Homo sapiens: one gene and its partners. The protein of the gene in region 4 purifies or fractionates together with the protein of the main gene of each other region. This does not show direct contact. Each region holds a gene or a part of one and is shown on either strand. Other genes may lie near its edges.

The links.
Region 1: the proteins of GPR173 (region 4) and PIGU purify together in Homo sapiens (affinity purification with mass spectrometry; one large-scale study listed by BioGRID and IntAct). This does not show direct contact.
Region 2: the proteins of GPR173 (region 4) and XPO5 purify together in Homo sapiens (affinity purification with mass spectrometry; one large-scale study listed by BioGRID and IntAct). This does not show direct contact.
Region 3: the proteins of GPR173 (region 4) and ATP13A3 purify together in Homo sapiens (affinity purification with mass spectrometry; one large-scale study listed by BioGRID and IntAct). This does not show direct contact.
Region 5: the proteins of GPR173 (region 4) and CNNM4 purify together in Homo sapiens (affinity purification with mass spectrometry; one large-scale study listed by BioGRID and IntAct). This does not show direct contact.
Region 6: the proteins of GPR173 (region 4) and CELSR2 purify together in Homo sapiens (affinity purification with mass spectrometry; one large-scale study listed by BioGRID and IntAct). This does not show direct contact.
Region 7: the proteins of GPR173 (region 4) and MAOB purify together in Homo sapiens (affinity purification with mass spectrometry; one large-scale study listed by BioGRID and IntAct). This does not show direct contact.

Annotation. Positions count from the first base shown.
Region 1 is NC_000020.11:34,667,093-34,670,592, forward strand, and holds part of PIGU (GPI-anchor transamidase component PIGU), read right to left. Parts: intron 1-3,500. UniProt on the Homo sapiens protein: Component of the glycosylphosphatidylinositol-anchor (GPI-anchor) transamidase (GPI-T) complex that catalyzes the formation of the linkage between a proprotein and a GPI-anchor and participates in GPI anchored protein biosynthesis.
Region 2 is NC_000006.12:43,566,039-43,569,538, forward strand, and holds part of XPO5 (exportin-5), read right to left. Parts: intron 2,700-3,500; coding exon 2,673-2,699; intron 1,317-2,672; coding exon 1,131-1,316; intron 1-1,130. UniProt on the Homo sapiens protein: Mediates the nuclear export of proteins bearing a double-stranded RNA binding domain (dsRBD) and double-stranded RNAs (cargos). XPO5 in the nucleus binds cooperatively to the RNA and to the GTPase Ran in its active GTP-bound form.
Region 3 is NC_000003.12:194,431,503-194,435,002, reverse strand, and holds part of ATP13A3 (polyamine-transporting ATPase 13A3), read left to right. Parts: intron 1-1,106; coding exon 1,107-1,231; intron 1,232-3,110; coding exon 3,111-3,286; intron 3,287-3,500. UniProt on the Homo sapiens protein: ATP-driven pump involved in endocytosis-dependent polyamine transport. Uses ATP as an energy source to transfer polyamine precursor putrescine from the endosomal compartment to the cytosol.
Region 4 is NC_000023.11:53,047,398-53,051,588, reverse strand, and holds the start of GPR173 (probable G-protein coupled receptor 173), read right to left. Parts: upstream 2,801-4,191; 5' UTR 2,105-2,800; intron 1-2,104. UniProt on the Homo sapiens protein: Is a receptor for the SMIM20 derived peptides Phoenixin-14 and Phoenixin-20. It mediates the Phoenixin-14 and Phoenixin-20 augmentation of gonadotropin-releasing hormone (GNRH) signaling in the hypothalamus and pituitary gland.
Region 5 is NC_000002.12:96,791,902-96,795,401, forward strand, and holds part of CNNM4 (metal transporter CNNM4 precursor), read left to right. Parts: intron 1-3,500. UniProt on the Homo sapiens protein: Probable metal transporter. The interaction with the metal ion chaperone COX11 suggests that it may play a role in sensory neuron functions. May play a role in biomineralization and retinal function.
Region 6 is NC_000001.11:109,270,039-109,273,538, forward strand, and holds part of CELSR2 (cadherin EGF LAG seven-pass G-type receptor 2 precursor), read left to right. Parts: coding exon 1-95; intron 96-387; coding exon 388-562; intron 563-888; coding exon 889-1,001; intron 1,002-1,178; coding exon 1,179-1,258; intron 1,259-1,347; coding exon 1,348-1,474; intron 1,475-1,561; coding exon 1,562-1,684; intron 1,685-2,239; coding exon 2,240-2,367; intron 2,368-2,601; coding exon 2,602-2,690; intron 2,691-2,794; coding exon 2,795-2,989; intron 2,990-3,127; coding exon 3,128-3,298; intron 3,299-3,397; coding exon 3,398-3,500. UniProt on the Homo sapiens protein: Receptor that may have an important role in cell/cell signaling during nervous system formation.
Region 7 is NC_000023.11:43,770,951-43,774,450, forward strand, and holds part of MAOB (amine oxidase [flavin-containing] B), read right to left. Parts: intron 1-3,500.

The DNA of each region.
Region 1 (3,500 bases), on a different chromosome or scaffold from region 4:
TGGCCTCCCAAAGTGCTAAGATTACAGGCATGAGCCACTATGCCTGGCCAATAATTCTTAGTTACCTTGGTATACTTTTCCTATGGGTGATAATAAAAGCATATCATCCTGTATAAGACAAATATTATTTTTCAGTTTCCCGTATCAATAAGGACAAAAGCTTGTTCAAAAGCAGTAGTGTCCCTATACTTCTAGCTGAGGGCCTAAGAAGCAGCATCACTCCAGCTGCAATGAACACACCTAGCATTCAGAACTTTGTTTCTAAATAACATTCTCTAATAAAAGGAGCCAGGGCCCTTGAAGAAGTGGTCAATTCCAGGGCTGAACTAAGCAAGATAAACCTGGATCATCTTATAGTTCTAGAATGTAATAAAGTGCTTTTAAAAAAAAAAAGTGAGATAGAGGTATGGCAAAAGGACAAAGGGGTCAAGATGAAAGCGGTCCCAATGGCCAAAACTAGAATAATCCAAACAACAGAATGAATATAGTATACAGAGTCCAGAGTATAAAATATCCAAATCTATACTGACATAAATAGTTAAATAAATGCAAAGAAATGACAACTCTTCCTTACAGAAGAATTTTAATTATTAAATAAAAATGAATGAGAGAAACAGAAAAGTCACCATTGAAACACCTGAGTAATGACTGTTACAGGCAAGATTAACCTATGAATGCAAAAATTAGTAGGCAAAAATTTAAAAACAGGATATTTGCAGAGCTCCAAAGAATAGCCCCTAAAATGCTGATTAATTACAAAGGGAAACAGTCACTTTATGGTGGAGAAATCTGGCAGACACTACATTAACCAAGGGATTATGGCTGACATCACCAGTATTAGGGCATTTCAATATGCACCCCTGATCCAATGCACTGAGAGGACCATATCATCTCAGGGGTATTCTTCCCCAAAATCCATTACCTCCGTCAAACCACAAGAAAACATTAGACAAAACCAAATTGAGGGACATTCTACAAAATACCTGACCAGAGCTCTTCAAAGTGTCAAGGTCATAAAAGATGAGGAAATGCTAAGGAACTATCACAGATAAACGACTAAGGAGATATAACAACTAAACGCAATATGTGGCCAGGCGCGGTGGCTCATGCCTGTAATCACAGCATTTTGGGAGGTCGAGGCAGGTGGATCACCTGAGGTCAGGAATTCGATACCAGCCTGGCCAGCATGGTGAAACCCCGTATCCACTAAAAATACAAAGATTAGCTGGCATGGTGGCAGGGACCTATAATCCCAGCTACTCGGGAGGCTAAGGCAGGAGAATCTCCTGAATCTGGGAGGTGGAGGTTGCAGTGAGCCGAGATCTCGCCACTGCACTCCAGCCTGGGTGACAGAGCGAGACTCCGTCTCAAAAAAAAAAAAAAAAAAAAAAGGGGGGGGCGGGCGTGCTGGCTCACACCCGTAATCCCAGCACTTTGGAGGCTGAAGTGGGCAAATCATGAGGTCAGGAGATCGAAACCATCCTGGCTAACATGGTGAAATCCCATCTCTACTAAAAATATAAGAAATTAGCCAGGCGAGGTGGCGGGCACCTGTAGTCCCAGCTACTCGGGAGGCTGAGGCAGGAGAATGGCATGAAACCGGAAGGCGGAGCTTGCAGTGAACCAAGATCGTGTCACTGCACTCCAGCCTGGGTGACAGAGCGAGACTCTGACTCAAAAAAATAAATAAATAAATAAATAAAATAAAAATAAAAATGCAATATGGAATATTAGATCATAGAACAGAAAAAAAATTAGTGAAAAAATGGTAAAACTTTTTTTTTTTTTTTTTTTTTTTTTTTTTTTTTACACAGGGTCTTGCTCTGGTGCCAGGCTACATACAGTGCAGTGGCATGATCATAGCTCAATGCAGCTTCCTCATCCCAGGCTCAAGCAATCCTCCCACTTCAGCTTCCCAAGTAGCTGGGACCACAGGTGTGCGCCACCAAACCAGCTAACTCTTTTTTAATTTTATGTAGAGAGGGAGTCTCCCTATGTTGCCCAGACTGGTCATAAATTCCAGAGCTCAAGGCATCCCCTCGCCTCAGCCTCCCAAAGTGCTGAGATTATAGGCATAGCCACTGTGCCCAGCAAAAATGGTAAAATCTTAACAACTATGGTTTAGTTAATAGTATTGTACCAATGCTATCATCTTAGTTTTGATCACTGTACTATGACTATGTAGGATATTAACATTGGGGGAAGCTGGGTGAAGGGTATACAGATCTCTCTGCAATATTTTTGCAAGTATTCTGTAAGTTTAAAATGATTTCAAGTAAAAAGCTAAAAAACAGGCTGGTGCAGTGACTCATGCCTGTAATCCCAGCACTTTGGGAGGCAGAGGCAGGTAGATCACTTGAGGTCAGGAATTCAAGACCAGCCTGACCAACATGGTGAAACCCTATCTCTACCAAAAATACAAAAATTAGCTGGGTGTGGTGGCACACACCTGTAATCCCAGCTACTCAGGAGGCTGAGGCAAGAGAATTGCTTGAACCCAGGAGGTGGAGGTTGCAGTAGGCCAAGATCACACCACTGCACTCCAGCCTGGGCAACAGAGTGAGACTCTGGCTGAAAAAAAAAAAAAAAAGTAAAAAACAAAAAACAGTGGTATCTAGTCTCTGGATCCAGCTGCCTATTTGCAGGAAATAGAGATGATAGAGGAACATGTTAAATTGTATCATGATATATAATCAGGAAAATTCAAACTATGGGAGATCTGTCTGGATTCTTCAATAGATAAACACTATGGAAGAGAAAGGGAACCTGGGACCCTAAAAATTAAGAGAGATTGAAAACACAAACAAAAACTTTTTTCTTAGGGGCAAGACTAAGCCTAACGGCAAATGAACTAGGGATGTTCATTTGAGTAATAAAACTTTTAAAAATACAAAGATGTCATTACATATAAAAGTCAGGATAATAGTTACTTATGAAAAGAGTGAGGGGATTGTGACGAAGGGGGGCTTCTGAAGTGAGTGGCAAAGTTCTGATTCTTGACTTGGATGACAGTTACAAAAATGTTCACCTTACAATAATTCACCATAGAATACATTGTTATGTGTGTCTTACAAATTCTGTTTAATTTTGTAATAACGGCTTTTTTTTTTTTTTTGAGACAAAGTCTTGCTCTATTGCCCAGGCTGGAGTGCAGTGGCATGATCTCAGCTCACTGCAACCTCCACCTCCTGAGTTCAAGTGATTCTCCTGCCTCAGCCTCCTGAGTAGCTGGGACTACAGGCTCCTGCCACCACACCCAGCTAATTTTTGTATTTTTAGTAGAGACAAGGTTTCACCATGTTGCCTAGGCCGGTCTCGAACTCAAGCTCAAGCAATCTACCCACCTCCCACCTTAGCCTCCCAAAGTGCTGGGATTACAGGTGTGAGCCACCTCGCCTGGCCATAAAGGCTTTTTTAAGTAGTGGTATCAGAAGTGCTCTTCCTGACCCTGATTCTTTTATTTTTGAGACAAGGTCTTGTTCTGTCGCCCAGGCTGGAGT
Region 2 (3,500 bases), on a different chromosome or scaffold from region 4:
CTGAGATCAGGAGTTCGAGACCAGCCTGGTCAACATGGTGAAACCCTGTCTCTACTAAAAATACAAAAATTAGGCCAGGTGCCGTGGCTCACACCTGTAATCCTAGCACTTTGGGAGGTCAAAGCAGGTGGATCACTTGAGGTCAAAAGTTCGAGACCAGCCTGGCCAACATAGTGAAACCCCATCTCTACTAAAAAATACAAAAATTAGCTGGGTGTGGTGGCACACGCCTGTAATCCCAGATACTCAGGAGGCTGAGGCAGGAGAATTGCTTGAACCCGGGAGGCAGAGGTTGCACTGAGCTGAGATTGCGCCACTGCACTCCAGCCTAGACAACAGAACGAGACTCCATCTCAAAAAATAAATAAATAAATAAATAAATGTGTTGGGCAATAATGCTGATATGACAGCAAAGTAAATTACATTTGTAGATAATATTCCTATGGAGAAAAGAGTCACAGTTCCATTGGTTAGCCAAGACAGACATAGGCTTGGCGCAGTGGCTCACGCCTGTAATCCCAGCACTTTAGGAGGCTGAGGAGGGCAGATCACTTGAGCTCAGGAGTTCGAGAAGAGCCTGGCTAACATGGCAAAACCTCATCTCTACTAAAAAATACAAAAATCAGTCGGGCATGGTGGCGTGTGCCTATAGTCCTAGCTACTCGGGAAGCTGAGGCAGGAGAATCGCTTGAACCCGGAAGGCGGACGTTGCAGTGAGCCAACATCACGCCACTGCACTCCAGCCTGGGTGACAGAGCAAGACTGTTTCAATTAAAAAAAAAAAAAAAAAAAAAAGACAGATATAAACCTACTGTAGCCACCATCCAAGATTCCTTGACATTCATTAAGTGAGCTTTAAACTTAAACATTTACTTTTATCTGTTAACTGTAAATTGCCAAGTATCATGGCTATTTCAAGAACCATGCAGCCTGATAAATCTCCACATTCTGCCAAAGGATCCCTTGAATATTGGCAAACTCCTGTCCAAGGGGGTTGGAAGCAGGCAGTAAGTTGGCCCCAAGGAAAAAAACCCAAACCTTTAAATGACTTTCTGCCACAACATGCAATTAAACACATACACAGCCTACTTCAGAGACTGAGGATAAGTCAGTTTGAAGTGGTAACTTACTTTTCTGCTGACTGCAATGAGAAGACACTCAGCGGCTCCCAACTGAAGTTCCTGTTCATTCAACAGCAAACACAGTATCTCCAGGAGTTTACAGTTTTCAGCAGTGATGTGACTCATAGACACCCAGTCAATATAGCCTGCTAGAGTATTCAGTGCTGCAACTCCTACTCGACAGTTTGCTTGCGCCTACCAGAAAAGAAGTAACTTTGGACCATGAAGTCCTCGGTAACAGGTAAGGAATCAGTGGTTATAACTGAACTCCCATTTTCTAATTCTAAGAAAATTATTTTTTAAGAATATACTCATGTAACAGTCACAGGTAGGGAACACAATCACTTCTCAAACAATGACATTCTCAACATCCAACAACAAGACCATACTGGCATGTGTGGCCATTTTATCTTTTTCACAAAACCCCAAATCTTATCATTTTACTTCCCAAGGCTGGGTGCAGTGGCACACACCTGCAATACCAGCACTTTGGGAGGCCAAGGTGGGTGAATCAACTGAGCCCAGGAGTTAAAACAACAGCCTGGGCAACATGGCAAAACTAGTGTCTACCAAAAAAACAAAAAATAAAATAAAATAAAAAAAATACCCTAACCAAAAAAATACAAAAATTAGCCAGGCATGATGGTGTGCATCTATAGTCCCAGCTACTCATGAGGTTGAGGTAAGGCTCACTTGAAGCCTGGAGGCTGAAGCTGCAGTGAGCCACGTTTGCGTCACTGTACTCTAGCCTGGGTGACAAAGTAAGACCCTGTGTCAAAAAAAAAAAAAAAAAGTAAGTCTGTTTTTGTTTTTTTTTTTTACTTCCCTTCAACCATAGCTCAGTGATCAAAAACAGAACAAAGGACAGGCTGGGCATGGTGGCTCACACCTGTAATCCCAGCACTTTGGGAAGCTGAGGAGGGCGGATGATGAGGTCAGGAGATTGAGACTATCCTGGCTAACATGGTGAAACCCCGTCTCTACTAAAAATACAAAAAATTAGCTGGGTGTGGTGGCGGGCACCTGTAGTCCCAGCTACTCGGGAGGCCAGGCAGGAGAATGGCGTGAACCCAGGAGGCAGAGCTTGCAGTGAGCCGAGATCGCGCCACTGCACTCCAGCCTGGGCAAGTGAGCGAGACTCCGTCTCAAAAACAAAAACAAAAACAAACAAAAAAAACAAACGACAGATGCAGTGGCCCACAGTCACTTCAGGAGGTCGAGGCTGGAGGATCACTTGAAGCCAGGGGTTTGACACCGGCCTAGGCAACACACTGAGACCCTGTTTCTATAGAAAGTATTAGCTGGGCATGGTGGTGCGCACCTATATTCCCAGCTACTCATGAAGTTGAGGTGAGAGGATCACTTGAGCTGGGGAGGTCATGGCTGCAGTGAGCTGAGACCACACAACTGCACTCCAGCCTGGGCAACAGTAAGACCTGTCTCCAAAACAATACAACACAAGCAAGGCTGAGGTCACCATCCACTAGGGGCACGTATCCCCTCACCTGAAAGGTTCAAAGGTCTCCTTCAAACTTTATAAAGAGCTCTTACCTTTGACTCCTGAGAAGTATCTGTCTTCTGAAAGGAAGTATAAAGATCCAGTGTTTTTAATGAGCAAAAGGCCACATAATAACTTTCTACCCCCCACAAATCAATGCCCTTGAATAATGATTCTTAAATATATGCAATTTTTCATCTTGGAAAATAACACAACTTTACTAAGCACGCATAACTGATATTCCCCTAGGGAGAACAAGTAAAGTCAGAAGCATAATTAAATGAATACAATTCATGAACATGTATGTATAGCCTAAGTATATGAAAACCATGTACTCAAAAATACTGGATGTTGGCCAGGCGTGGTGGCTCACGCCTGTAATCCCAGCAGTCTGGGAGGCCAAGGCAGGTGGATCACCTGAGGTCAGGAGTTTGAGACCAGTCTGGCCAACATGGTGAAACCCCATCTCTACTAAAATTACAAAAATTAGCCGGTGTGCTGGCGCATGCCTGTAATCCCAGCTACTTGGGAAGCTGAGGCAGAAGAATCACTCGAACCCGGGAGGCAGAGGTTGCAGTGAACCAAGATTGCACTACTGCACTCCAGCCTGGGCAACAAAAGTGAAACTCCGTCTCAAAAAAAAAAAAACAACAAAAAAAAATACATATATATATGATGTTAAATACATCAGAATAGTGGCTATTCAGTGAATATACAAATATGGTTGATTTTTATCCTTATATTTCAAATCCATACAAAGGCACATAATGTTAACTTACAAGCATACAAAATTAGGCCAGGCGCGGTGGCTCACGCCTACCATCCCAGCACTTTGGAAGACCAAGGCAGGCGGATTATTTGAGGTCAGGAGTTCAAGACCA
Region 3 (3,500 bases), on a different chromosome or scaffold from region 4:
CATTGAGAAAAAAATTTCTATGATATAATTCAGGTAGGTTGAGGTGTTTTTTGTTTGTTTTCTTTTTTTGTTTGTTTCTTTTGAGATAGGATCTCTCTTTGTTGCTTAGGCTAGAGTGCAGTGGAACAAACACTTCTCACTGCAGACTTGACCACCTGGGCCTTAAATGATCCTCACTCCTCAAGCCTTCCAAGTAGTGGGACTGCAGGCACATGTCATCATGCCCAGCTAATTGTTTTTTCATTTTTTGTAGAGACGGGGTCTCACTATGCTGCCCAGGCTGGCCTCAAACTCCTAGGTTCAAGCAATCCTCCTATTTCAGCCTCCCAAAGTGGTGGGATTACAGGCATGAGCTACAATGCCTGACCTGAGATTTCTTAAGAACGTAACTATCACTGAACAGACTTCATCTCTTTTATAGTGCTAAAGCACGTACTATTTTTGTGTGCATCTCTTTGGTTGCATGTCTGTTTCCCCACCCAAGTGTCTTGAGAGCAGAGATCATCCCTTTTTGTCTTTAACCTCCCAGTGACTAGCATAGTGCCTGCTGCATTCTTGATACTCAGTTATTTAAAGAATAGCATCTTGATAACTATATTAGTAATATTTTCAAAGACCCATCTCTGGGTCCCAAGTAGATCTCATTGTTGGATTGCTAATGGTTCTTGTGTCACATTTTCAGGATCAGTAATTGTTTTATAGAATTGATCTGAGACTTGATAATGAATCCACGAAAACTGTATTGAATGTGCTTGTGGCACAGTTTTTTCTTTTTCACTTAACATTTAAATTAGGATATGTTGTAGAGGGCAGTAAAGAATAGATTTATGCTTATTTTTGGATACTACACAAAATGAATATTCCTTAGTATTAGAATTGTTTAGTGTACAGTGACATACATTTCCAAATGATTATTATATTGAGATACTGAACTCTTGAACACACACGTGGTTTATTCAGCATATAAAATGTTTTCATTTATAGATATTTTAAACTGCATTATAACTTATAGACATTTTTAATTGTTTAGATATTTCAAGTTTGTGTACATAAGTTGCTTACTCAATTGACTAAACCATTATGTGTTAAAACTTCTTTTTCTGCAGAGATGCAATTGAGAACAACATGGATTTTATGGGATTAATTATAATGCAGAACAAATTAAAGCAAGAAACCCCTGCAGTACTTGAAGATTTGCATAAAGCCAACATTCGCACCGTCATGGTCACAGGTTAGACTTTATAAAAGAACACAGAAGCAAATGGAGTGTGACAGAGCTGAAGTTATATTATATTGAGGGATAATCAGTTATAAAATCATATTATATAGTCTATAGTGGTTTCAACCTAAGTTCTCTTTTAGCTCTGAATATTTTCCCAAGCGCAAGATAACTTTGTCATATTCTTTTTGAGGTCTAGCGAATCCTATTTATAGAAAGTGTAGTAGAATAGTAAAAGTACGGCCGGGCGCGGTGGCTCACGCCTGTAATCCCAGCACTTTGGGAGGCCGAGGCGGGTGGATCATGAGGTCAGGAGATTGAGACCATCCTGGCTAACAAGGTGAAACCCCGTCTCTACTAAAAATACAAAAAATTAGCCGGGAGCGGTGGCGGGTGCCTGTAGTCCCAGCTACTCGGGAGGCTGAGGCAGGAGAATGGCGTGAACCCGGGAAGCGGAGCTTGCAGTGAGCCGAGATTGCGCCACTGCAGTCCGCAGTCCGGCCTGGGCGACAGAGCGAGACTCCGTCTCAAAAAAAAAAAAAAAAAAAAAAGAATAGTAAAAGTACACTGTAAAAATTTAAACTTGACTCCTTTTTGTTTTCTCTCTTTATTCGTATATTTCTTATAGCACTTATTGTACCTTGTGTTATTTGTAGATTTGTTTTCTGTACTAGAATATAAGATTCTTGAGGGTTAGGAGTATATTTTACTCATGTTGGGGTCCTTTGCAACTTTTAGAACTGTCAGCTACATAGAAAATGATTAATAGATATTCGATAGCATGAAATGTTTATATGTAAGATATTGTTTATTACCCTAGCTTGAATTCTAGTGAAATAGCCTACTTTTTTTTTTCTAGTACATCTAAGGGATTCTCCTGATGTTACTATACTGTTGATAATATTAGATAACTCTTACTCATTAGCTGTGTGAAATTGTGGTAGCTCTGTTTTTTGTTTTTTTTTCTTAGCAGATAATCAGATTTAAGATACTTAATGGCACTTACGTGTTCAGTAAGACTAATATGGAGAAAGTCTGTATACATTTTTGTGTTTTAGACTCTTGAGATCTATCTAATAACATAATTTTACCGTATAACTCAAGGTAACTAAGTCTGTTAGCATTCCAGCCATTCTTAGTTCTTGCGTCTTCTTTGTCAAGACACTTTTCACCTGTTCCTCGTCCTCCTCTTTTATTTATTTATTTATTTTCCCCTTGCCAGAATATGGCTTTGTGTACCAAAGGTCATAGGAAGATATTCTTGGAAATAGTGTGTGGAAATTGAGGAAAGAAATATCTCGCTCTTCTGTTTTGGTAGCAGTGGGATCCACAAACCTTTGTCTGCTTCTCCTTAATAAGATCCTGTTCTTGCTGCTCTTCTTTCTTCTCATGACTGAGAAGTTGTCTCTCTTGTTTCTCGTTTACACCTGTTCTTATTACCTGTCTTACCTTTTTGTTTTGTATGATCTTGCTTTTGTAATTCATCATTTTCTATGATATGGTGCTGGTGTTCTTGCACAGACCACTAGTCACTTTGTAAAGTTATTTCGGTAAGTATTTATTGAGCCACCTGATCTGTGTGTAGCACCGTGCCAGGTATTGTGTAGATACAAATAGTGCATGACTGGAAAAGATTGAGAATTATATTTGGCTTTAAAAATTGTGGGTGAGATGTTTTCTTTAGCATATAACGTGCTTGCGTTATTTGAGGCTTCTTTTGATAAGTATGCTCCAATTTTGTTATTTTTAAACTGTAAGTGGAAGAACCATACATTATCGTTACTCTGCCAGCCCAGTCATGGAGACTGTAGTAGATTCTCAGCAAGTACATGTTTGATACGTTCACGTTTCCATTTTAATTTCAATACATTTAAAATATTTTGAAAATTAGGTGACAGTATGTTGACTGCTGTCTCTGTGGCCAGAGATTGTGGAATGATTCTACCTCAGGATAAAGTGATTATTGCTGAAGCATTACCTCCAAAGGATGGGAAAGTTGCCAAAATAAATTGGCATTATGCAGACTCCCTCACGCAGTGCAGTCATCCATCAGCAATTGACCCAGAGGTAAGGTCAAGATCGACTGTCCGTTTTAAAGTTTGTTGATTTAAATTTAGTCTGAAAAAATAAAAAAAGTGGTGCATTAAAACACAGTAAAGCAAAAACTAAATGAAAACAGAAGTCAGGGCTATTTTTTCAGAGATTATGTTTCATTAGGACTGGGACAGACCCAGGAATCTCAATGTTCAAATTTTGATATTTAGCTAAGATGAGAAGCATA
Region 4 (4,191 bases):
CCACAGTACACACACAAGCCTACCCAGATACCCACACACTCACACACATGCCATCACACGGCCTGCTTACACACACAGGTTCATACACAGCCACACTGCCCATGAACAGACATGCACACACAGACTACACACTCAGCCACACATTTTCAGTAGCATATATACAACCACGCTCGGGCCCAGAGGCCTCCAGACCACAGACCAGGTCCTCTCCCACACCAAATGCTTCTTCAGAAAAGTCTACTTTATGCCTCAAAGCCCCCCTCCCTGCCCCCACAGAGATGGTCTTCTGGGCCTCAGTCTTTCCCCATTCCTCCTCTTCCCTTGGCCACCGACCCCACACTCTGTGTCCCATCACATCTCCATGCCCTGAAATCAGCCAGCAGACCCCGTTCTTCCCCCACCCCAGGCTCTAGGTGAGCAGCTCCCTGGGACGCGTCCCTCACAGGTCTGGCTGCTGCATGGGCCACACCCCAGCTCTACCCGAAGCCCCGTGATCTCAGGAGCTTCAGCCTCATCTCCAGGCCCTGCCAACCACTGACCACAGGCCAAACTCTTGCCAAGTCTCCCCTCAACAGGGAGACACATACATCACCAGGGCCAGAAAGGCTGCAGGCTGCAAGCCAGGCCTCTGCTGGCTCATGGGGGCTCAAGGTTCTGTGTGTGTGTGTGCGCACAAACAGGGACAAGTGCAGGGAAAGAAGACTGGAGTGGGGTGGGGGAGGGAGGCTCTGCCCATAACCACTTATCATTCTCTACAAATGAGAAGTATTAACACAGGGCTTCTCCTGCCTCCCTTCCACTACCCTCCATTTGCCCACTTGCTGCCCTCCCCAGATCTCTGCTGAGACCCTGGAGAAGAAGGACCTGTCCCTCCTCCAAGTAATCGATAACACTATTAATCATGAATAATCAGCAACAATATTGACTGTGAGCTTTGCTGACATTGCTTCAGTGCCACCTCGATGCACATCTCTTACTTACATGCACCAACTCATTCAATCCCTACACACACCCATCAGGGAAGGGTTACCAGTCTCTTTGACAGATGGGAAAACTGAGGTTCGGTAAGTGGCATGCTTCCACTAAAGTTGCAGAGCTAGTAGTTGGGGGAAGTGTCCCTGGGAGGATCCATGTTCTCCATGTACCAGGCTTTCCTGCCCTTCCAGATATATGGACCTCCGGCTACTGGGCACAAGGCCACAAGATCCGGGGGGTCTCAGACACAACATGGACATCTGAAACAGAGACAGAGAGCCTTGTGGTGGAGGCTGGGTCCCACACTGTAGGGACAACCATGTTGTTCCTGGCCCCTGCAGGTTGTCATGGGATTGGTCTTTGCCCCCACAGAACCATCAGGCAGCCTAGGGCCTGGAAGTGCTCCCCACCACCACTTCACTGTCCTTTAGCCCTACAGTGACTTCCTCCCCCTAGCTGGGAATCGGCAACATCTTCAGTGGTGAGTGAGCAAAACTCTGCTACCTGTAGGGAGAGATGGGGAGGTGGGGAGGGTGGAAGGAAGGAAGGAAGGAAAGGAGGAAAGAAGGAGTGGGGGATGGTCTGGGCTGGGAGCAGCTTCTCTGTCATGTCTACCCACCTGCTTGCTACCCAGGTGCACACACACACACACACACACACACACACACACACACACACCCGGCCAGCAGGCCAGGGATCCTGGAGGAGAGTGGAGGAGGAGGGAGAGGGAGAGGAGCAGCCGCAAGAGGCTGAGCCTGCCCAGGGTGCAGGCATTGTGAAGGGAACACGGCCGCCGGGCTCCCAGGCATCCCTTCCACAGCCAGCACACAAGGAAAGATTAACACAGCCTCATGCCCAAACGCAACCATGATGATAAAAACAGACCCTGTGAGGGGAAACAGGTGGTGGTTCCCTTTCTCATGGGACATTTGGGATTGGGGAAGATGGGGGGAAGATGAGGAGTCCCCAGGCTTGGGTACCAAGGAGCCCCTTGATGGAGCAGAAAGAGACTAACAGAGTCAGACAGAGACAGAGAGCATGGCAGTGATGGAGACTCTGAAGTATGTGTGGGGAGACAGAACAGAAGTCCCAGCCCCCCATCCTTGGTGGAGGGATGCTGACTGCTTACCTTGGCTCTCTCAGCAGGGATGTCTTGGAATCCACGATGGGGCTCAAGCTGTCTCACCCAGGTAAATCACAGCCCGGGCCACATTGTGGGACCCTCAGTGATCTGGCGGCCAGTGACACTCCTGCTTCTGTTGCCGTGGATACAGCCGGGCTGGTCTAAATCGCAGGCATCAGGGAAAGCAGGCACCGGAGGGGTGCACTGGGTAGGGCTGGGGGTGTTGGGGAACACCAGGTGGGCAGCACACAGCCTTGGGGTGTCCAACTAGCTGGCAGGTGGGGGTCCCGGCAGGTGCTTCCTCCACTATACACTCCCACTCCCATCTTCATGCCACTGCCAAGCTGGGAGGGGGGCCAGTGCTGGCCCCTGCTACCCGTCTGCCTGCCTGGCTGCCGGTCCCCCTACCCCCCCCACCCCCCACCCCCCCCCTCCGTCTGCCTGCTGGCCGCCGCCTTTTGTCCTCAGAAGACACGGTCCCCGCGGGGCCTCTGCCAAGCCTCCAGCAGATGCTCAGGGTCCGGGGCTCCTCCCTGGGAGCACACGGGCCATGGCCTGGGAGAGCCCCAGGTTGGGGGGGCTCTCATCCAGGCTCACCCCGCTCCCCGGGCCTGGCGGGGATGGGGAAGAGGTGCAGGTCCACAGCCAGAGGCAGCAGCAGAGGTGGTGTTGGGGAGGGGATGGACGCCAGAAAGAGGGGGTGGGGTGGAGAGAGAGGCTGGCCTGATAGCCGTGTCCCGGGTTTTAGATCCGGGTTGAGGAGGGTGGCTCAGAGCATCCGAGGGGGGTCCTCATGCAAAACGAGGGCACCAAGGGCCTGCCAGAGGGACCCTCCTGGCCTGGGAACCACCCCGGTGCACACAAATCCAGGTCCCACGATGCTGGGGACACCCAGCCTGGATAGAGCATCAGTGGGGAGTCCGGGGCCCTAAGCTGGACCCCATCAGGCCTGTCCGTCCCCCCTCTCCTCGATTTGCACGGTCCCTGCCTCAGGGGCGGGCGGAGGAGGAGGGAGGCAGGGAGGGAGAGGGAGGGAAGGAGGAAGGCTGAGCAGGCAGGGAGACTCCCAGCTGCCAGCCTGGTCCTCCCTGGGGCGGGGCGGGGAGCGGGGGGGGGGGCGGGGGGTGCTGGCGAGGCCAGGGAGCAGCCGGCTGGCTGACTGGGTGGGGACGCTGGCGTGGCGGCTGTGCTGCCAGGACAATAGCTGGCTGGGGAAGTCAGGCTCGGGCCTTTCTGAGATGCTCGAGAGAGGCATGAGTGGAGGTGGGGAGAGATGGCCAAGAGGCTGCTGAGAGAGCAACTCACATGGGCTACAAGTGCAGAGGAGGCAGGGCATAGAGGACGCTAGGATCTGGGTCGGGACAAAGGTCCGGCGAAAGTTTCTCAAAAGCTTTGGGCTGGGAGGCATGCTTAGGGCCCGGAGAGGTGGGATTCATAAACTGATTTAGAATGGGGTTCTATGGGCATTTTCCCTGCAAGGCCTGGAGGTTGGCTGGGGGGTTGGGGTGGGAAAGGAGCGCTGCCCAACTCTGAACAGCCCCTCTCAGGATATCTCCTGTGCCATCCCCACTTTCTCGGGGCCAGCAGACAGGCAGAACCCATACTTAAAGCCATGTCCCAGGACAACAGAATAGGAGAGGTGAGGAGAACGCTTGGTAGGCAGAGATATGAAGACAAGGAAAAAAATATTTGTTTCAAATATGATTAAATTGGGACCAAATGATGCTTCAGTGGTTCCCCTAAGTTACAGCATTCAAGAATTCAAATTATCTTGATATAAGAAATTGTGTTTTATTTCCTTTCTTCCTTCATCCATTGGTTCCTTCATTTATGACAAATGGTTTTATGTTAGGCCCAGTGCTGGGCACTAACAGTACCGGGTGACTCAGACCTATGCTCTCTGCCCTTAGGAAATGCAGGCTCTGCTACCAGACTGTGGACCTGGAACCCACTTGCATCTGAATCCCCTGGAGAACTTGTAAAGTGTAGATACCCAAGCCTACCTCCCAGAAATACTAATCTAGGAGGTTTTCAGATGGGGCTTCAAAACCTGCCTTTTGACAAGGCCCTCCGGTGGTCATTTTTATGCCCAC
Region 5 (3,500 bases), on a different chromosome or scaffold from region 4:
GGAGTCACTCGCTCTGTTGCCCAGGCTGGAGTGCAGTGGCATGATCTTGCCTCACTACAACCTCCACCTCCTGGGTTCAAGCAATTCTGCGCCTGAAATCTCAGCACTTTGGGAGGCCGAGGTGGGCTGAACACTTGAGATCAGGAGCAGGAGAGTAGCCTGGCCAACATGGTGAAACCCCATCTCTACTAAAAATACAAAAAATTAGCCGAGTGTGGTGGCAGGTGCCTGTAATCAGGCAGACTGAGGTGGGAGAATCACTGGAACCTGTGAGGTGGAGATTGCAGTGAGCTGAGATCACGCCACTGCACTCCAGCCTGGGTGACAGAGTGAGACTCCAGCTCAAAAAAAAAAAAAAAACCACACACACACAAAAATACAATTTTATTAGAATTTATACAATGAGAATCCTAAATATAAGCCCTAAATTGATCTGCTTATTTTAGATGTTAAATCAGTTAGCAATAATTTCCGAAGTATAGAAACTTCTAAATTAGTAAAATCTAAAATAATTCTTTCCATCTTCGGCCTCCCTTCCCCTTCCCCGCTCCCCTTCCCCTCACTGGTTACTTTTCTCCTCCTGCTAAATGGATGTAGAGGCACAAAGAAAGACAGGAGGGACTGGTCACGGTGGCTCACACCTGTAATCCCAGCACTCTGGGAGGCCGAGGAGGGTGGATCACCTGAGGTCAGGAGTTCGTGACCAGCCTGACCAACATGGTGAAACCCCATCTCTACTAAAAATACAAAAAATTAGCTGGGTGTGGTGGCGGGCGCCTGTAATCCCAGCTACTTGGCAGGCTGAGGCAGGAGAATCCCTTGAACCTGCTAGGTGGAGGTTGCAGTGAGCTGAGATCGCGCCACTGTACTCCAGCCTGGCGACAGAGCAAGACTACATCTCAAAAAAAAAAGAGAGGAGGTCAGGCTCACCGTCCCATGGGCCTGATAACTGGGACAGAGCTGCCCTAAAGGGAGACAGGAGTGTTGGGGGGATGGGCATGAGCTGGGTTTTGGCTGCGTTAATTTCAAGGTATTAGTGACGTCAGGCAGCACTTGGATAGAGGAATCTGGAGGGCACGGGAGAGGACAGGGCTGCAGAGATTTATTTGGGACACTTGTACACTTGTATTTAAAGTTGCTAGGCAAGGGACCAGGTGTACAGACTGAGTTCTGAGTCTCTCCAGCATTTAAGTGGTCAGGGAGAAGCAGTGACTCCTGAGGTCAGGAGCACTGGGAGGGCTGTGCCCTGGAAGCCCTGGGCAGAAAGGGCTTCCAGGGGAAAGGAGGGAGTCACCGTTGGTCAGCAGGTCATCTGAGAATAACACTCCACCATGAAAGGTCATTGGTGACCTTGACCAGAGGCTCTCTGGCCCGGGGAGGGGAAAATTCTACCAGGACAAAAAGATGTCCCCTCTGGACAGACAAATTAGAAAATAGGAAAAACAGCCCAGGGGCCCAAAGCTCACCCTGCAGAGGGTGACTGACTGGCCCCTTAGGCTGGAACCTCTGTACGGAACCCCAGTTGGCCAGCCATCAGGCAGTGCCCAAAGCTCAGCTTGCAGAGGAGGGGTGAACGTGTACATGGTGCTCAGGGCTGTACACCTACAAGGTGCCTGTCATGCAGCTGGCTGCCACCCGAGGGTGCACACACACAGCAGTGGATCCCGCCAAGGGGTCTCAGAGAGGAGGCGGGGGGCGGAGAATGGTATCAAGACCCTGCTCAGGGAATCAGCTCATTTCATCCGCAGGAGGGCTGTTTCCACTATAAGAGAGGCTGCCAGGCCGGGCGCGGTGGCTGACATCTGTAATCCCAGCACCCTGGGAGGCCAAGGCAGAATGATCACTTGAGGTCAGGAGTTCGAGACCAGCCTGGCCAACCTGGCGAAACCCCGTCTCTACTAAAAATGCAAAATTAGCTGGGTATGGTGGCGCACACCCAGCTACTCAGGAGGCTGAGGCAGGAGAATCGCTTGAACCTGGGAGGTGAAGGTTGCAGTGAGCTGAGATTGTACCACTGTACTCCAGCCTGGGCCACTCCAGCCTAGGCTACACAGTGAGAGTCTGTCTCAAAAAAAATAAAAACAGAGAGAGGCCAGCAGCCTTTCACTGTGAGGGAACCTTTCGTTGGTCAGGATTTGGTCTGAGCCTGTGGAGTAATTAGGGATGTGAATGTAGTGGAGAGGTTGTTTTCTGACTTTGGGGGTCTGAACAAGGTTCTGCTCACTGAACCTTGTCAAAGAACACACCCCCATTCCCTGGGGCTCGATCTGTGGCAGTAAAAAGCACAGAGGGCCCTTGTCCACCCTAGAGACTCTCACCAGTTTCCCTTTGTTCTCCTTAATTTTGTTTTCCCCCTTAATTTTGTCTCAGTTTTGTTTTTAAATTATAAAAGTAAAACATGCCCATCAAATATAACAGTATAGAAGGGTATATAGAGAGGCAAAATAGCCTCCTCCCCAAACTCCAAATACCCCCAAAGGTGACCACTCTTACTACTTCTGGACGCTTCCAGGGCAGTTCAAGCCCACACACGCCTTTGTTTCTGTGAAGGCAGATGGCTCCATGCATTCTGTTCCGTGACTTGCTCTTTCACTAATAGCGTATCTTGGATTTCGTTCCGCGCTTTATTCATCCACCTCTGCCGTGTTCTCCCTTGAGTAGCTGTGGCCCCTTTTGAGTCCCTGTGCCCTATTGCTATTGCTTTAGGTTGTTTCTGGTTTGGGGCTGTTAAAAAGAATGTTGCCAAGAGCCCCCTTCTCTTGTGTCTTTTGTGAAGGTTGCCTCTCCCTAGGGTGAGTTCCTAGAAGTGGACCTTCTAAGTCCAAGGTTAGGAACCCTTGATTTTGTGACATCCTGACCAACTGGCCCCCTGAAATGTACCCTTTTACCTGGCCACCAACCAGATACATGTGAGGGCCTGTTTGTCTTCCCCATCCTCCACCATAACTGGGCATTACCAGGCTTTTTAGAGGGTGCCCATCTGGAAGGGGGTACAGGTTGGGCATCCCGAATCCAAAAATCCAAAATCCCAAATGCTCCAAAATCCAAAACTTTTTGAGTACCAACATGATGCTCAAAAGAAATGCTCATTGGAGCATTTTGTAGTTCAGATTTTCAGATTTGGGATGCCCAATGGCGTGTATTCTGCAAATATTCCAAAATCCAAAAAAATCTGAAATCTGAAACACTTCTGATCCCCAGTGAGGAATAAGGGATACTCAGCCTGTCAAAGCTGCCTTGCTTTAATTCCCATCCCCATGTGGTGACATGGTTTAGCTAGATGCCCAGGCCCTTCCAGGCACTGTCTTTCTGGAGGGCACTCCTGTATGGACAGCCTCCAGCAGGCACAGAGGCCTGGGGGCGGACCCCAGGGTCCCGGCCTGGCCCGCTGCCGCCCTGCTGGAGGGCCTCACAGATCTCTTGAACTTGTTGGCTCATCTCTAGGAAGATACTGGGGTATTTTCAATCGAGTCCAGCCATGGCTTTGTCTAGCAAGACGC
Region 6 (3,500 bases), on a different chromosome or scaffold from region 4:
GCTCCAACCAACACGGCATCCGACGTAACCTGACAGCTGCCCTGGGCCTGGCTCAGCTGGTCTTCCTCCTGGGAATCAACCAGGCTGACCTCCCTGTAAGATGCTCCTACTGCCCAGAAACTGTCCCCACCTTCTCAGGCCGCCTCCCCAGCCCCCACTGGCAACCCCTGCTCCTGCACCATGAACTCTAATAAGGTGCCTAGTGCAGCACCTGGCCCAGGGTTTCCTCTTCTGTGGCTCCCCCGGGATCCCCCAGCACCTGCCTCTGGCCCAGGCTTCCCTGGAAGCAGTTCCCAACACCCAGGCCCTCCTCCATGCCTGACCCGAAGCAGAGCCTGTGCTCTGGGCGGGCCCCGGTCGCTGACCTGCCCTGGCCTGGGCCCTCAGTTTGCCTGCACAGTCATTGCCATCCTGCTGCACTTCCTGTACCTCTGCACCTTTTCCTGGGCTCTGCTGGAGGCCTTGCACCTGTACCGGGCACTCACTGAGGTGCGCGATGTCAACACCGGCCCCATGCGCTTCTACTACATGCTGGGCTGGGGCGTGCCTGCCTTCATCACAGGTACTCCCACCCATTCCCAGTCTTGGGGTCCCACATCCCTGGGTCCACCTTTGTGCCATGTTCTCTCCACCCACATACAGGCCCTGAGGCCCCACATCCCCATGCCCCAGGCCGCCTTATTCACAGGTGTCCCTCTGGTTTAACCCAGACTCTGCAGCCGCCACCCAGGCGTCACTCCCTTATCCTGGGGAGATCGGTAGGGGCCGATGGTGGGCAGAACCCTTTTCCATGCTTCATGCCTGGCCCTGTGAGCCCACCTGCCCGCAGCCCTACTTCCCAGGCCCCTCATCACCCCTCCACTGCTCCCGTCTGTCTCCATGCTCCAGGGCTAGCCGTGGGCCTGGACCCCGAGGGCTACGGGAACCCTGACTTCTGCTGGCTCTCCATCTATGACACGCTCATCTGGAGTTTTGCTGGCCCGGTGGCCTTTGCCGTCTCGGTGAGTGCTAGCAGGTGGGTTGGGTGTCACCTGTGGCCCTCCTTTGCTGTCCTCCTGCTGCTGGGGCCGCGTGTCCTCAGGACTCCCTTTAGGAACAGCTGAGGCCACGGGGCCCTGTGGGCTGGGTGGAAGCTGTTTGTCCCCACTGAGCACCCCATGCCCTCTGCCCCTGCCTAGATGAGTGTCTTCCTGTACATCCTGGCGGCCCGGGCCTCCTGTGCTGCCCAGCGGCAGGGCTTTGAGAAGAAAGGTCCTGTGTGAGTATAGGGTTGGGGTGCCTGGGCCATGGGCAGGCACCAGCATGGGAGGTCTCATGGCCGGACTCATGGCCTGTCCCTATCCCCAGCTCGGGCCTGCAGCCCTCCTTCGCCGTCCTCCTGCTGCTGAGCGCCACGTGGCTGCTGGCACTGCTCTCTGTCAACAGCGACACCCTCCTCTTCCACTACCTCTTTGCTACCTGCAATTGCATCCAGGTACCTGGCCCAGCCTGTGGAGAAGGGAGGCACCTGGGCTGTGGATGCCTGAATATGCACAGACCGTTGCTGCCTCTTGCCTGCCAGGGCCCCTTCATCTTCCTCTCCTATGTGGTGCTTAGCAAGGAGGTCCGGAAAGCACTCAAGCTTGCCTGCAGCCGCAAGCCCAGCCCTGACCCTGCTCTGACCACCAAGTCCACCCTGACCTCGGTGAGGGAGCCAGGGGTCTCAGGAGGGCGGTGAAGGGAGGGAGAGGCAGGAGGCCCAGTGAGCCTGTACTTTTGGCCCCACTCCCCTTTCTCTTTTCTCCATCCCTTCCTGGAAGGTGGAAGGGGAGGTGAAATGCTGTGTTCGGCCTGGGGAGGAGATGTTGGAAAGGGTGTGTAGGATTTTGACTTGAGGGAGATGGGGCTGAGACAGATAATCAGGTAATAAGTGCCTTGCACCTGAGAATCTCTCATGAATTTTAGTAAATTTTCTGTCTCCCAAGGTGCTCTCAGGAGACAATTTCTGGTCTCATCTTTTACAGAGCCATTATATAGTGAGTCCAGGATCCCTGGGGGCATGCAGGGGTAGCACAGCTGTGGCAGAGCTGTGACCACTGCCAGGCCTCAATATGGGGACAGCGGAGAAGCAGGGCCCTCTCTTTCAGACCTGAGCATGTGGAAGGTGGAACTTAGGGCAAGTTCCCTCCACCCTCCTTCTTCCCAGCCTGGGGCCAGCCATCCCACTCCCCACTTACTGACCTCTCTGTTCCCTGCCTAGTCCTACAACTGCCCCAGCCCCTACGCAGATGGGCGGCTGTACCAGCCCTACGGAGACTCGGCCGGCTCTCTGCACAGCACCAGTCGCTCGGGCAAGAGTCAGCCCAGCTACATCCCCTTCTTGCTGAGGTGAATCCCGGAGATGGGAGGGTGGAGGAGGGGAGGAGGGGCCCACGCATGCTGGACCCAGGCCAGCCAGCTGTTGGGAGTTGAGGAGCACACACTGTGGCTGACGTGGGGGCCAGCTTGGATTAGAAGCTGTAAGGGACCCACAGCAGGAACCAGGATCCCAGGGGAGAGGAGAGACTGGGACCCTGGGCAAGGGGCCAGGCTGACCCCTCCAGCATGGTCTCATCTTCCTAGGGAGGAGTCCGCACTGAACCCTGGCCAAGGGCCCCCTGGCCTGGGGGATCCAGGCAGCCTGTTCCTGGAAGGTCAAGACCAGCAGCATGGTGAGGACAGAACGCTCTGGCCACCCAGCAGGGCAGTTGGCTGGCTTTTACTGAAGGTGGGTGGAGGTGGCTGGGCTGGCTGTGATCTCTCCCTGGCCTCCTAGATCCTGACACGGACTCCGACAGTGACCTGTCCTTAGAAGACGACCAGAGTGGCTCCTATGCCTCTACCCACTCATCAGACAGTGAGGAGGAAGAAGAGGAGGAGGAAGAGGAGGCCGCCTTCCCTGGAGAGCAGGGCTGGGATAGCCTGCTGGGGCCTGGAGCAGAGAGACTGCCCCTGCACAGTACTCCCAAGGGTGGGCCAGCACTGGGGCTGTGGCCTTTGGGGCCAGTGGGAGGACAGTGGGCCTGGGGTTCTTGGGAAGCAGGACTGGGGTGGTGGCCTCCTGGCTATCTGCCCTCTGTGGGCCTCATCTACTTCCTTTCCCCACCAGATGGGGGCCCAGGGCCTGGCAAGGCCCCCTGGCCAGGAGACTTTGGGACCACAGCAAAAGAGAGTAGTGGCAACGGGGCCCCTGAGGAGCGGCTGCGGGAGAATGGAGATGCCCTGTCTCGAGAGGGGTCCCTAGGCCCCCTTCCAGGCTCTTCTGCCCAGCCTCACAAAGGTGAGTGGGGCACCCCCAGCTGCCGAGCTCCCCTAGTCAGCAGCCTCATACCTCACATTCTCCTGTGGCCGCACCTCACAGCCCCGCCCCGGCCCACAGGCATCCTTAAGAAGAAGTGTCTGCCCACCATCAGCGAGAAGAGCAGCCTCCTGCGGCTCCCCCTGGAGCAATGCACAGGGTCTTCCCGGGGCTCCTCCGCTAG
Region 7 (3,500 bases), 9.3 Mb from region 4:
TCATGGTTCTCTTATATCTGATAAGCGATGTCAAGAACTAACATCCATGTTCCATCTTAGTCAACACTGTACACCACTGGGCCTTTTATTAGAAAACCAAATGAGCTGGCTTGCATTGGTGGGTTTTCTTTCACCTGCTCTGATTGTAGTCATCACAAAAAGGAGAAGAAAATACAAGGAGAGATATTATATAGAATACAGATGGTCTCCAACGTATAATTGTTAACTTTATGATGGTGTTAAAACAATACACATTCAGTAGAAACCATACTTCAAGTACCCATACAACCATTCTGTCTTTCACTTTCAATACCGTATTTAAAACTTGACATGAAATATTCAACCCTCTATTATAAAATACGCTTTCTGTTAGATGATTATGCCCAACTGTCGGCTAATATAAGTGTTCTGAGCACGTTTAAGGTAGCTAAGCTAAACTATGATATTCAGTACATTAGGTGTATTAAGCGCATTTTCCACTTATAATATTTTCAATTTATGGTGGGTTTATTGGGATATAACCCCATCATATTTTGAGGAACACCTGTATTAGTATATTGATGACAACACATGAAATATATAGAGAGCCTAAGGGTACTCAGGAAGGAACCCTTCCTACAAGAGAAGGTGGATTGACTTTCCCCGTGTTGATTAAACAATGCCGTTTTTCACTACATGTTTACTTTTTTTTCAATGGAGAAAACTAACCCCAGCTGGAGACCTCTAGGAGGCCTGGCTAGACCCTAAGAATGAAATATTAGAAGACAGAACAAAGGCTTAGAGAACTAATCATACTATAAATCAGAATATGTGAAAACCAAGAATTAATTTTAAACAAAGAGATAGTTTCCCGCCACTTGTCATTTGGAAATTATGTTCCTTTAAGGGAAAAAAAGAGTCCAACAACCAGGTAAGAAAAATACCTGCCCCTTCTTTTGCAGGTGCGTGAACAGACAGTATATATTTACAAAAGATATAGGACATCATAAAGGGGAACTCCACATATATTTCTTGTGGCTTATGAGTTTTACTGCATAATCACGACAATCATTTTTTTCACCCTATCCAGAAGAAACATTTCTTAAGAAATGTATATTTAGTTCTTTACCAAGTTGTACTGGTAATTCTGTCTTCTCTTTTCCTTCAGAACATGTACTGTGAACTTTCAGGGCTCTGAATATAAAACTTATTGCAATATCTTAAATACCATGGCCCTGAAGGGTCAAGGGAAGTCTTCTGGGCAGGTAGTCTCTGTTCAAGCTGGGAATTATGTTAAGCTATGCTGTGCCTTAGTTTCTACCCTAAAAATTGAAGGTAGTTATAGGAAGCCTGACATATATCCCTGGGAAGGAATAAAGATAAAAGAAGGCATTACTGTATCACCACCAATGCCAGATACAATGGGATTTATCTTGCTTCTCTCACGTGGTCAGGATCAGGCCAGTTCAGGTTAGTGTCCTCTTTGTTCCCCAAACCAAAAGGTATTTATGAAATTGAGCATAAAACCCACCACTCTGTGGTCAGAAATCTAATCATATCACACTTCTGATTTAAAACAAAGCCAAAAACAAAAGTAATGCAGTGATAGCTGTTCTCTGTTGAAATATCAAGTTTTGTATTCCTGAATGTGTCATATAGGGCAAACTGTTCTTCCTCCCCCTTTGATCTGATTCTCCATTCTGTCCTTAATATCACCCATAGCCCATCTGATATAATATTTTGATATTTGTCCCTGCCCAAATCTCATGTAGAATTGTAATTTCCAATGCTTGAGGTGGGGCCTGGTGGGAGGTGTTTGGATCATGGGGACGGATCCCTCATGGCTTGGTGCCTTCTTCATGATAGTGAGTTCTAGCAAGATCTGGTCACGTTAAGAGTGTATGGTACCTCTCCCCACCACACTTGCTTGTTCCTGCTTTCGCCATGTGACTTGCCTGTTCTCACTTTGCCTTCTGCCATGATTGTGAGCTCCCTGAGGCTTCACCAGAAACTGAGCAGATGCCAGCACCATGCTTGTATAGCCTGCAGAACTATGAGCCAATTAAACCTTTTTTCTTTATAAGTTCCCCAGACTCAGGTATTTATTTTAAGCAATGCAAGAATGGCCTAATACACCATCCATGCAAAGTTCTTCCCCAGACTTTCCAGAAACCTGTGGGATCCTAGCGTTTTCCTCATGCCATTCCATCTGCATAGACTGCATCCCCAATAGCCTTTCTCTGCCTCCTACAACCCTCAGGTGGTATGTGCATTATGAAGCCTTCCCAGATTTCTCTAAGTAAAGCTAGCCTGTGCCTCTGTGTGTTCCAGTGGTATCTCTATGCCCCTGTATTAGAGCATTTACCTCAGTGGTAACATTCTGAGTGGTGATACAGTAGTGCCCTCCTTTATCCTTATTCCCTTCCAGGGACATATGTCAGTACTTTAGAGTCAATTTTTGATATCATGTCCTCTCCCCATCCCCACCCTAGCCCTCAACACTGTCAGCTCCTTCTCAGCAGGGAGGCTGTCCTTGGTATTGAAGTTCTCAGCACAGTGCTTCGCAAATGGTTGGCACTTAGCCAATAAATGCAGAATGAAACAAATACCATTGACATATTCTACACTCAGTGATACGATTTGGCTCTGTGTCCCCACTCAAATCTCATATTGTAGCTCCCATAATTCTCATGTGTTGTGGGAGGGACCCAGTGGGAGATGAGTGAATTATGGGCGGGGGTCTTTCCTGTGCTGTTCTGGTGATAATGAATGGATCTCACAAGATCTGATGGTTTTAAAAACGGGAGTTTCTTTGCACAAGCTCTCTCTTTGCCTGCTGCCATCGACGTAAGATGTGACTTGCTCCTCCTTGCCTTTTGCCATGATTGTGAAGCCTCCCCAGCCATGTAGAACTGTAAGTCCAATAAACCTCTTACTTTTGTAAATTGCCCGGTCTCAGGTATGTCTTTATCAGCAGTGTGAAAATAGAGTAACACAGTCAGCATATCTAAAAATTAACTTAATGACCCAGCAGCTTATCAGGTGCTGCCCCTTGGCCCCAGAATGTTCTCTTGGATAATATTTTGCCATCTTTAAGCAGGTAAAGAAAGTGCTAACCAAAGTTATTACGTATCTTCTGATAAGCAGGTTTTACTCCTTATTCGACCAGTTTTCATGGACAGATTGATTAGCCATTTCCACTTACCCCCTCTGTTTGCTGCATACTTTCAACAGTCTTTGACTCACTAGTCTACATTTCTCATCCTGTTTAGATTAAGCTTTTGGCATTAAATTATTGCTTGGTTTAGTAATAGTATAATAGTCATAAAAATCACTGCTATATTATTAGTTCATTTATTGTCATCAAATAAATTAACTAAACAACAACACACTTGGATGTATAATGCTGTGAATGCTAAAAGCCATTGAACTGTGCACCGTTTTGAATAGGTGAATTGTATGGTATGTGAATTACGTCTCAATAAGGATGTTAAAAAATAACTCATACTTCCCAGCATCTA